3 linked regions of the Homo sapiens genome follow. The protein of the gene in region 3 purifies or fractionates together with the protein of the main gene of each other region. This does not show direct contact. Each region holds a gene or a part of one and is shown on either strand. Other genes may lie near its edges. The genes, in order: SERPING1, DNA2 and PHF11.

Evidence for each region.
Region 1: the proteins of PHF11 (region 3) and SERPING1 purify together in Homo sapiens (affinity purification with mass spectrometry; one large-scale study listed by BioGRID and IntAct). This does not show direct contact.
Region 2: the proteins of PHF11 (region 3) and DNA2 purify together in Homo sapiens (affinity purification with western blotting, with the first as the bait; one study listed by BioGRID). This does not show direct contact.

The regions. Positions count from the first base shown.
Region 1 is NC_000011.10:57,607,511-57,611,240, reverse strand, and holds part of SERPING1 (plasma protease C1 inhibitor precursor), read right to left. Parts: intron 1-3,730. UniProt on the Homo sapiens protein: Serine protease inhibitor, which acrs as a regulator of the classical complement pathway. Forms a proteolytically inactive stoichiometric complex with the C1r or C1s proteases. May also regulate blood coagulation, fibrinolysis and the generation of kinins.
Region 2 is NC_000010.11:68,426,974-68,430,473, reverse strand, and holds part of DNA2 (DNA replication ATP-dependent helicase/nuclease DNA2), read left to right. Parts: coding exon 1-38; intron 39-3,500. UniProt on the Homo sapiens protein: Key enzyme involved in DNA replication and DNA repair in nucleus and mitochondrion.
Region 3 is NC_000013.11:49,502,282-49,506,011, reverse strand, and holds part of PHF11 (PHD finger protein 11), read right to left. Parts: intron 1-3,730. UniProt on the Homo sapiens protein: Positive regulator of Th1-type cytokine gene expression.

The sequences.
Region 1 (3,730 bases), on a different chromosome or scaffold from region 3:
AAGGACTTTTGGTCATGCACGGTGGCTCACACCTGTAATCCCAGCACTTTGGGAGGCCGAGGTGGGCGGATCACGAGGTCAAGAGATTGAGACCATCCTGGCCACCATGATGAAACCCCACCTCTACTAAAAATACAAAAATTAGCTGGGTGGTGGCACGTGCCTGTAATCCCAGCTACTCAGGAGGCTGAGGCAGGAGAATTGCTTGAACCCGGGAGGTGGAGGCTGCAGTGAGCCGAGATCATGCCACTGCACTCCAGCCTGGTGACAGAGCGAGACTCCATCTCAAAAAGAGAAAAAAAAAAGAAGAAGGACTTTCAACTGGTGACCAGACAAAAGTATGTAAGAAGTGCAGGGCCCCTGGGTTTAATACAGGGGTTGTCAACTCGGAGTGAATTTGCCTCTCAGTGGACATTTGGTAATGTCTGGAGACATTTTGGTTGTCATAGCTGGCAGGGGGCAAGGAGGATGTGCACACAGTGCTACTGGCTTCTAGTGAGTAGAAGCTAAGGAAGATGCTAAATTCTACAATGCACAGGACAAAGAATTATCTGACCCAATATGTCAATAGTGCCAAGGCTGAGAAACCCTAGTCTAATAGGATATGAGACTGTCATTAAATGGTATTATGATTGAGGCTGAAGGAACAAAAAGAATCTAGAAGAATGCAGAATTCAACTGGGCAATAAAGAAATTAACTGAAAGCAATCAATTGTCGGAACCTGAATAGCCCAGAAGAAGTAGATAGTAAGCCAATTTCGACTGAAAAGAGTGGACATGGGGTCCCTGTTGATGTAGCACTCAAGTTGGATATACTCATTTGAGTAGCATGTGCCCTTCAAGTCCTATGTATGAACCTTGAATCTCTGAAGAAAAATTTACCATGCTGTGGTCTTGAATTTTCAAGCCAGTAACCTCGGTGTACCTGAGCCGGTAAATCTCACCCCCTTCCTTGGGTAAATATCCTTAAGTGCCAGGAAGATTTAGAATTTAGTATAAGAATGACAAAAGAAACCAACTTCATCATGTTAAAACCAGGTGTTAAGTTCAGGGTAACCTGTATGTTTGTTATTTAAAATAGTGATTGTAATTTTTAAGAGACTCTGACATGCTAGTTTTATGCTTTTAAGCAAAGTTGTAGGATAATTTCATTAAATGTGAGAATGATATTGGAATGTTGGCTAGAAGTTAATTCACCCTTCAAATTTAATTTTCAGTTTACAAGTGAGCTTTAGGTGTTAGGATGATATGGCCAAGCACAGTCGTAATTACGACCTGTCAGGTATTAGATGTGTTTAAAAAGAAAATCAGCTGGGTGAGGTGGCTCATGCCTGGAATCTCAGCTACTTAAGAGGCTAGGGTGGGAGGACTGCTTCATCCCAAGGAGCTTGAGGTTACAGTAAGTGAGGATTGTGTCACTGTACTCCAGACTGGGTGATAGAGTAAGACCCTGTCTGGGAAAACTACATAAATAAATAAAAGAAAAAAGAAAATCGAGCATATTAAATTTTTAAAGGGAGCTTAAAATGCTTATGGGAATACTAATTATGTTTGTAGATAGAAAAAATGGTTTAAAGGAGTTTAATCTGTTCAATATGGCAATTAATTCAAGAACAAATGAGAGTGTTTTTATATAAAAATCACCCTATTTTTTTTTTTCTGAGACAAGGTCTCACTCTGTCGCTCAGGCTGGAATGCAGTGGCATGATCTCGGCTCACTGCAACCTTCGCCTCCCGGGTTCAAGCGATTCTTCTGTCCCAGCCTCACAAGTATCTGGGATTACAGGCGTGCACCATCACACCCGGCTTATTTTTTGTATTTTTAATGGAGATGGGGTTTCACAATGTTGGCCAAGCTGGTCTCGAACTCCTGACCTCAGGTGATTCACCTGCCTCGGCCTCCCAAAGTGCTGGGATTACAGGCGTGAGCCACTGTACCCAGCCTATTCTTTTTTTGTGTTTTGAGACAGAGTCTTGCTGTGTTGCCCAGGTTGGAGTGCAGTGGCGCGATTTTGGCTCACTGTAACCTCTGCCTCCCAGGTTCAAGTGATTCTGTGCCTTAGCATCCTGAGTAGCTGGGATTACAGACATGTGCCACCATGCCTGGCTAATTTTTGTATTTTTAGTAGAGACAGAATTCCACCATGTTGGCCAGGCTGGTCTCAAACTCTTAGCTTCAAGTGATCCACCTGCCTCAGCCTCCTAAAGTGCTGGGATTATAGGCATGAGCCACTGCGCCCAGCCAAATCACCCTACTCTTAATGTAGCAAGTTCAGCTTAAAATTAAAAGGCATAAGTAAAATTTTAATTTTGCATTTGTTAGTACATTAAATTAATTATCTGTTTAAAACCTAAGGAACTCTAAATAGTGGCTTTTGTGCACAAAACTACTCCTCCTCCTTTGGCTTAAAAAAAAAAAAAAAACTCAGGCTGGGTGCAGTGGCTCACGCCTGTAATGCCAGCACTTTAGGAGGCCGAAGACGGACGAGCACTTGAGGTCAGGAGTTCATGACCAGCCTGGCCAACATGGTGAAACCCCATCTCTACTAAAAATACAAAAATTAGCTGGGAGTGGTGGCAGGCACCTATAATCCCAGCTACTAGGGAGGCTAAGGCAGGAGAATCGCTTGAACCTGGGAGGCAGAGGTTACAGAGAGCTGGGATTGTGCCACTGCACTCCGGCCTGGGCAACAGAATGAGACTTTATCTCAAAAGAAAAACAAACAAACAAACAAAACTCATATTGGCTTGGGGAGATAGAAATTACTCTTCATATTATACCTGCTTTGTATTTGAATATTTATTATTGATATTATATGTCCAGAATGCTCACCTTAACCTATCACCTCACCTCAATGGTTTCAACAGTCTACTCCCAAGGGATTTTTACAATGATTTTTGGTTTAGAGTTTTGTGTGAAACTTTAAAAACATTTTTAGAGAGGAAATACTTGTTCTTATAATTCGAATAGTTACATTTAAACCTAACTTGTTAAGTTCTTAATTCCTACTTTCCACCTAACATCTATGGCTTTGATTAAATAGCCATTCCAATTGATTTGAAAAAAATCTCATATTTATACCTCCCCCAACGTATCTTGAATTTGAACAATGCTCTGGACCTGTCACATATATTCACTCTTCTGTGCCTTATACAGGCTGTCCTGGTTCTGCTAAATGAGTCATGAATGGTCAAATACATTAGATAGGGATGGATAGATGGGTGGATAAGTCCATGAGTGGATAAATAACTGAGCAAAGAATGGTCAAAAATAACCTCCTCAGCTGGGCGCTGTGGCTCATGCCTGTAATCCCAGCCCTTTGGGAGGCTGAGGGTGTGGATCACTTGAGGTCAGGAGTTCGAGACCAGCTTGGCTAACATGGTGAAACCCCGTCTCTACTAAAAATACAAAAATTAGCCAGGTGTGGTGGCGGGCTCCTGTAGTCCCAGCTACTTGGGAGGCTGAGGCAGGAGAACTGCTTGAACTCGGGAGGCAGAGATTGCAGTGAGCTGAGATCATGTCAATGCACTGCAGCTTGAGTGACAGAGTGAGACCCTGTCTCGAAAAAAACCCTCCTCTATGAAGTCTTCCAGCCACTTTTACTGAGTAGCTCTCTTTGGCACCCTCTATTTCATTCATTCATTTATTCAGCAAACACTGAATGAGCACCTATGATAGGAGGCATTGTTCTAGGCACTACAGATACAGAAGGAAACAAGACAGGTTCCT
Region 2 (3,500 bases), on a different chromosome or scaffold from region 3:
AATCCTTAGCTCTTCTAGAAGAACTCTACAATAGTCAAGTAAGCACAATTATTGTATAATAATACTAACAGTTAATGTCCACAGCCAGAATGAGGGGAGAAACTGTACTCTGGGAAATTTAGTCACATTGACTGGATTTGCACATGATTAATTTATATGTACTATACGACCAGTTTATTAACTTATAGTTTGCTATTTCCTTCTGATCTGAAATAAGGTTTTGGGTTTATTATTTAGGGCTCTCTTCTAGTTTCAAATATCCTAGGAAACTACTAATAATCAGGGTTTCAGCCAGGTGCGATGGCTTACGCTTGTAATCCCAGCACTTTGGGAGGCTGAGGTGGGTGGATCATGAGGTCAAGAGTTCAAGACCAGCCTGGCCAACATGGTGAAAACCTGTCTCTACTAAAAATACAAAAAAAATTAGCCGGGCGTGGTGGTGGGCGCCTGTAATTCCAGCTACTTGGGAGGCTGAGGCACGGAGAATCGTTTGAACCTGGGAGGCGGAGGTTGCAGTGAGCAGAGATCGCGCCACTGCACTCCAGCCTAGGTGACAATGCAAGACTCCAGCTCAAAAAAAAAAAAAAAAAATCCGGGTTTTTTAGTAAGTTTGAATTAGAAACAATGGTACTTAATAGTCTTGTGATAACTATCTCTAGGCTTTTATATAGAATCTAATTTTTATTTTATTTTGTTATTTAATGTTTATTTATACTGGGAGTTCTTAACAGATTTTTTTTTCTTTTTTTTTTTTTTTTTTTTGAGATGGAGTCTTGCTCTGTCACCCAGGCTGGAGTGCAGTGGCGCGATCCTGGCTCACTGCAAGCTTCGCCTCCTGGGTTCACACCATTTTCCTGCCTCAGCCTTCCGAGTAGCTGGGACTACAGGCACCCGCCACCACGCCTGACTAATTTTTTTTTTTTTTTTTTGAGACGGAGTTTTATTCTTGTTGCCCAGGCTGGAGTGCAATGGCGCCATCTCAGCTCACAGCAGCCTCTGCCTCCCGGATTCAAGCGATTCTCCTGCTTCAGCCTCCTAAGTAGCTGGGATTACAGGCATGCCTGACCACGTCCTGCTAATTTCGTATTTTTAGTAGAGACAGGGTTTCTCCGTGTTGGTCAGGCTGGTCTCGCACTCCCAACCTCAGGTTATCCTCCTGCCTCGGCCTCCCAAAGTGCCAGGATTATAGGCGTGAACTACTGCGCCCGGCTTTTTTTTTTTTTTTTTAATTGAACCTTCCACCAAGTAGCTGGGATTATGGGCGCGGCTATAGTGCCTGGCTTAACTGATATTTTTGTCTTTAAAAAATTTCCCAAAGATTAGATTTAATAGAGTGTTCCTTTACCTCCTTTGTCTAATGCTAGCATATTTTTGTCTAATATCTGTCCCTGTTATTGATAAATTTAGAACTGGCTAAGATGTATATCTGGTTAACATTTTTATTAAATTAAACATTTTACTTTGAGGTAATTGTAGAGTCACATGCAGTTGTAAGAAATACTAGAGAGAGCCTGTGTCCCCTTTATCCAGTGGTGACATCTTGCAAGTCTGTAGTACAATGTCACACCCAGGATGTTGACATTGATACAGTCCCTATTCTATTACCACAAGATTCCTCATGTTGCACTTTTATAGTTGTATCCACTCTCCTGCCTTACCCCTCCTTAACCTCTGACAGCCATGACTCTGAGACTCTGATCTCCATTTCGATAATTTGGTCGTTCGAGAATGTTAAGTAAATGCAATAGCCTTTTGGGATTGGTGTTTTTTACTTAGCCTGATTCTCCAGAGCTTCCCCCAGATAGTTGTACGTATTAATAGTTTGTTCCTTTTTGTTGCCAAGTATTTTTCCATAGCATGGATGTACTGCATTGTGTTTAACCATTCACCCTCTGAAAATCTGGATTGTTTCCAGTTTTTGGATATTGTGAATAAAGCTGCTGTAAACAATCATGTTACAGGTTTTTGCGTAACATAAGTCTTCATTTCCCTGGGATAAATTCCCAGTAGTACAATTTCTGGATTGATTGGTAGTTGCATGTTCATTTTTTTTTTTTAATCTGCCAAACTGTTTTTCTAAGCAGGAACATTTCACGTGTATGAGTGATCTCCTCAGCATTTGGTGGCGATACAATTTTTTTTTATTTTGAGACGGAGTCTCGCTTTGTCCCCCAGGCTGGAGTGCAGTGGTGCAATCTTGGCTCACTGCAAGCTCCGCCTTCCAGCTCATGCCATTCTCCTGCCTCAGCCTCCCGAGTAGCTGGGACTACAGGCGCCTGCCACCACGCCCAGCTAATTCTTTGTATTTTTACTAGAGATGGGGTTTCATCATGTTAGCCAGGATGGTCTCAATCTCCTGACCTTGTGATCTGCCTGTCTCGGCCTCCTAAAGTGTTGGGATTACAGGCGTGAGCCACTGTGCCGGGCTTTTTTTTTTTTCTGAGATGGAGTTTGGCTCTGGCGCCCAGGCTGGAGTGCAGTGGTGCGATCTGAGCTCACTGCAACCTTTGCCTCCCAGGTTCAAGCAATTCTCCTGCCTCAGCCTCCTGAGTAGCTAGGATTACAGGCATGCGCCACCACGCCTGGCTAATTTTTTATATTTTTAGTAGTGACGAGGTTTCACCATGTTGGCCAGGCTGGTCTTGAGCTCCCGACCTCGTGATCCACCCGCCTTGGCCTCCCAAAGTGCTGGGATTAGAGGCATGAGCCACCGTGCCCAGCTGATACTATTTTTAATTTTAGCCATTTTGGTAGGTGTTTGGAGATTTTAATTTGCATTTACCCAGTTAAAATGTGTGTGTGTGTGTGTGTGTGTGTGTGTGTTTGAGACAAGGTCTTGCTCTGTTGCCCAGGCTGGAGTGCACTGGTGAGACCACGCCTCACTGCAGCCCTGACCTTCTGGGCTCAAGTGATCTTTCTGCCTCAGCCTCCTGAGTAACTAGAACTATACAGGCATGTACCACCATGCCTGCCTAATATTTTCAATTTTTTTATGTTGTCCAGGCTGGTCTTGAACTCTTGGGTTCAAATGATCCTCCCACCTCTGTCTGCCTCCCAAAGTGTTGGGATTACAGATGTGAGCCACTGCATCCAGCCATAATGTGGTGGGGTTTTTTTTTTGTTTTTGACACGTTATTGCCCAGGCTGGAGTGCAGTGGTGTGAACTCGGCTTACTGCAACCTCTGCCTCCCAGGTTCAAGTGATTCTCCTGCCTCAGCCTCCCAAGTAGCTGGGATTACAGGCATGCGCCACATATTTTTTTTTTTTAGTAGAGACGGGGTTTCACCATGTTGTCCAGGCTAGTCTCGAACTCTTGACCTCAGGTGATCCACCTGCCTCAGCCTCCCAAAGTGCTGGGATTACAGGCTTGAGCCACCACACCTGGCCCATAATGAGTTTTTCATGTGCTTATTTGTCATCTGTATCTCTTCTTCATGTTTTTGCCCATTTTGGATTATATGCTTTGTAGTGTTGAGTTTTGAGAATTTTTAAAATGTATA
Region 3 (3,730 bases):
TTATTGTCACTACAAATGAAGAAGAAAACAATGGCATATTAAGAAATAGTGCTCTGGTTAATTATCTATTTAAAAAGTTAGAATCCTAATGCCATACTGTATTCAAAAATAAATTCTATGAGAATTAAAGACATAAATGAGCAATGTACTTTAAGTGTGCTTTAATTCAATATCATGATTAGGAAAGATACATGAAGGTAGGAAGTAGATTTTTTTTTTAAGGCGAAGAATGGAAAAAAGGAAAGAAATCTAAGGGAAGAAGAGGTAGGAAGAAAAGGCAAGAGGCAGAGAGAGGGAGAAGAAAGCCAGCTGTTGAGATCTCCACCCATGTGTCAGTAAGAGGCAAAGTTTTTGAACTGGTTATTTGCTATTTGGCCACAAGAATTCGTTTAAGATTTTTTTGCCCATTGCAATGTTCATCCTCTTACTTCCTTTGATTTTCTGTAGTAGAAAACAGCTTTTATTTATAATTTTCAAATTTTAGTTTTGAAAGAAAGATTTATTTTACCATTTAATGGGAAAAGTTTTCAATTTAGATGAGGTTAACTGCTTAAGTGATCCCTAAGTCTCTTCTGTTATCCAGATCTCTTCTCTGTCTCTTTAAGTTAGGTCTTTCATTTCACCAAGTCAGAAGGCTGCATTTGGAGCTAGCGTTTATTTCACATTCTGATCAGTTTCTTCTTTAATTTCTGTTTCTTGGATTTGGGTCCCACCTACCGGGGACACAAATTAACAGTCCCCAGCTTCCCACCAAGCAAGAAAAAAGGGTAAGATAGAGTGAAAACTGCTCAGACGGAATGAGCTAGCTGTTTTTTTCATTCATGTCTAACAACCAAAAATTTGGGAGTATCTTTTTTTTTTTTTTCATTTTTATTTATTTATTTTTTTATTATTTTTTTATTTATTTTTTATTTATCATTCTTGGGTGTTTCTCACAGTGTTTGTGTCCCTGGGTACTTGAGATTGGGGAGTGGTGATGACTCTTAACGAGCATGCTGCCTTCAAGCATCTGTTTAACAAAGCACATCTTGCACCGCCCTTAATCCATTTAACCCTGAGTGGACACAGCACATGTTTCAGAGAGCACAGGGTTGGGGGTAAGGTCACAGATCAACAGGATCCCAAGGCAGAAGAATTTTTCTTAGTACAGAACAAAATGAAAAGTCTCCCATGTCTACTTCTTTCTACACAGACACGGCAACCATCCGATTTCTCAATCTTTTCCCCACCTTTCCCCCCTTTCTATTCCACAAAGCCGCGATTGTCATCCTGGCCCGTTCTCAATGAGCTGTTGGGTACACCTCCCAGACGGGGTGGTGGCCGGGCAGAGGGGCTCCTCACTTCCTAGTAGGGGCGGCCGGGCAGAGGCGCCTCTCACCTCCCGGACGGGGCGGCTGGCCGGGCGGGGGGCTGACCCCCCACCTCCCTCCCGGACGGGGCGGCTGGCCGGGCAGAGGGGCTCCTCACTTCCCAGTAGGGGCGGCCAGGCAGAGGCGCCCCTCACCTCCCGGACGGGGCGGCTGGCCGGGCGGGGGGCTGGGGAGTATCTTTTTTTTTAGACAGAGTCTCGCTCTGTCACTCAGGTTGGAGTGCAGTGGCGCAATGATGGCTCACTGCAACCTCTGCCTCCAGGGCTCAAGTGATCCTCCCACCTCAGTCTCCCACCTCAGTAGCTGGGACCACAGATATAGGCCACCATGTCTGGCTAATTTTTGTTATTTTTTTTTTTAGAGACAGGGGTCCCATTATGTTGCCCAGGCTGGTCTCAAACTCCTAGGCTCAAGATCAGCCTGCTTGGCCTCCCAAAGTGCTGAGATTACAAGTGTGAGCCACTGCACCCAGCCTGAGAGCATTTCTTGTGTTTGAGTCACTATGTTGTGCACTCTAGACCGATGCTGTCCAACAAGAAACATATAACAAGACACAAATGTGAGCCACAGATATCACTGAAAACTTTCTAGGAGCCTCATTAAAAAAATCAAAAAGGAGGCTGGGCCTAGTGGCTCACGCCTATAATCCCAGAACTTCGGGAGGCTGAGGTGGGTGGATCACCTGAGGTCAGGAGTTCAAGACCAGCTTGGCCAACATGTCACTACTAAAAATACAAAAAAATTAGCCCAGTATGGTGGCACACACCTGTAATTCCAGCTACTTGGGAGGCTGAGGCACGAGAATTGCTTGCACCCAGGAGGCAGAGGCTGCAGTGAGCTGAAATTGTGCCACTGCACTCCAGCCTGGGCAACAGAATGAGGCTCTGTCTCAAAAACGACACAAACAAACAAACAAAAAACCCAAAAAAGAAACAGGTGAAGCTAATAATGTGCTTTATGCAACCAAATATGTCAAAGAACTTACATCCTTTCAACATTTAGTCAATATAAAAGTTATTCATTCTTTTGTACAGAGTCTTTGAAGTCCAGTGTGTATTCTGTGCTTAAAGCATGTCTCAATAGGACCAGTCACATTGTACGTGCTCAACAGCTATCTGTGGTGAGGGGCTCCTCTAGTGAATAGTAGAGCAGAGGACGTAAAGAAATGTGGTGAGATAGAACTGGTGTCTGCAAGAAGCTTACGAAATAAACAGGGAGACTAAATAGCAGTTAGGAAAATAAAATGGCAGAATTAAGTGTCACAAAGTGCAACTGCCAAGTGAGTGGGAATTCCAATACACGCTAAGGAGGTAGCCGAGGAAGTGCTCCTCGTGGGAAGGAGTATTGTCAAGGGCAGGGGCCTGGAACTGGTACAACCTGGAGAGGAGGGAAAGGTGGGGTGGGTTGGGGTATGGGCTAGGAGGAACACTGTAGAGGGAAGCAGCCATATGGGAAAAGGCCCAGAGATCGGAGCTGAGACAGTAAGGCAGCCAGGCTGAGGAGGAAAGGCTGCACAGGAAGCTGGGAAAGGATTTGAGAAACGTGTTGAAAGGCTGCCAAGGAGGATGTCTGAGCAGGAGAAGCACATGATGACAAAGTTGTTTAAGAAGGTCAATCTTGGTCGGGCACGGTGCTCACGCCTGTAATCCCTGCACTTTGGGAGGCCGAGGTGGGTGGATCACAAGATCAGGAGATCGAGACCATCCTGGCTAACATGGTGAAACCCCATCTCTACTACATTAAAAAAAAAAATTAGCTAGGCGTGGTGGTGCATGCCTGTTATCCCAGCTACTCGGGAGGCTGAGGCAGGAGAATCCCTTGGACCTGGGAGGCAGAGGTTGCAGTGAGCCAAGAATGTGCCACTGCACTGTGGCCTGGGCAACAAGAGTGAAACTCCGTCTCAAAACAAACAAACAAATAAACGTATTATCAAGGTACAGTTAGGACAGAAGGTTAGATGATGAAGTCAAAGGAAAGAACACGAAATGCAGAGAGAAGTGGATCATAATCTGGACTTACGAATGTAACATGCAGTAAGGTCACAATCCCATTTCTTCTCTAAGGCACTCATGTCCTTAGCCCATTTTTCTGTTGAATTATTATTTTCTTATTGGTTTATAACAGTCAGGGTATTAACCCTTTGTTAGTCATATATGTGGTCTTTTAACTTTGTTTATAATATTCTTTGATATACAGAATATTTAAATGTTTTACTTGATGAAATTACAACAATCATTTATTTTATGATTTCTGCTCTTGGGTGAGATGGACATAGAAAACACTTACCTCTGTTTTCTTCTAGAATTTTAATTTATTTTAATTAATCAATTTATTTATTTTGAGACAGGGTCTTGCCCTGT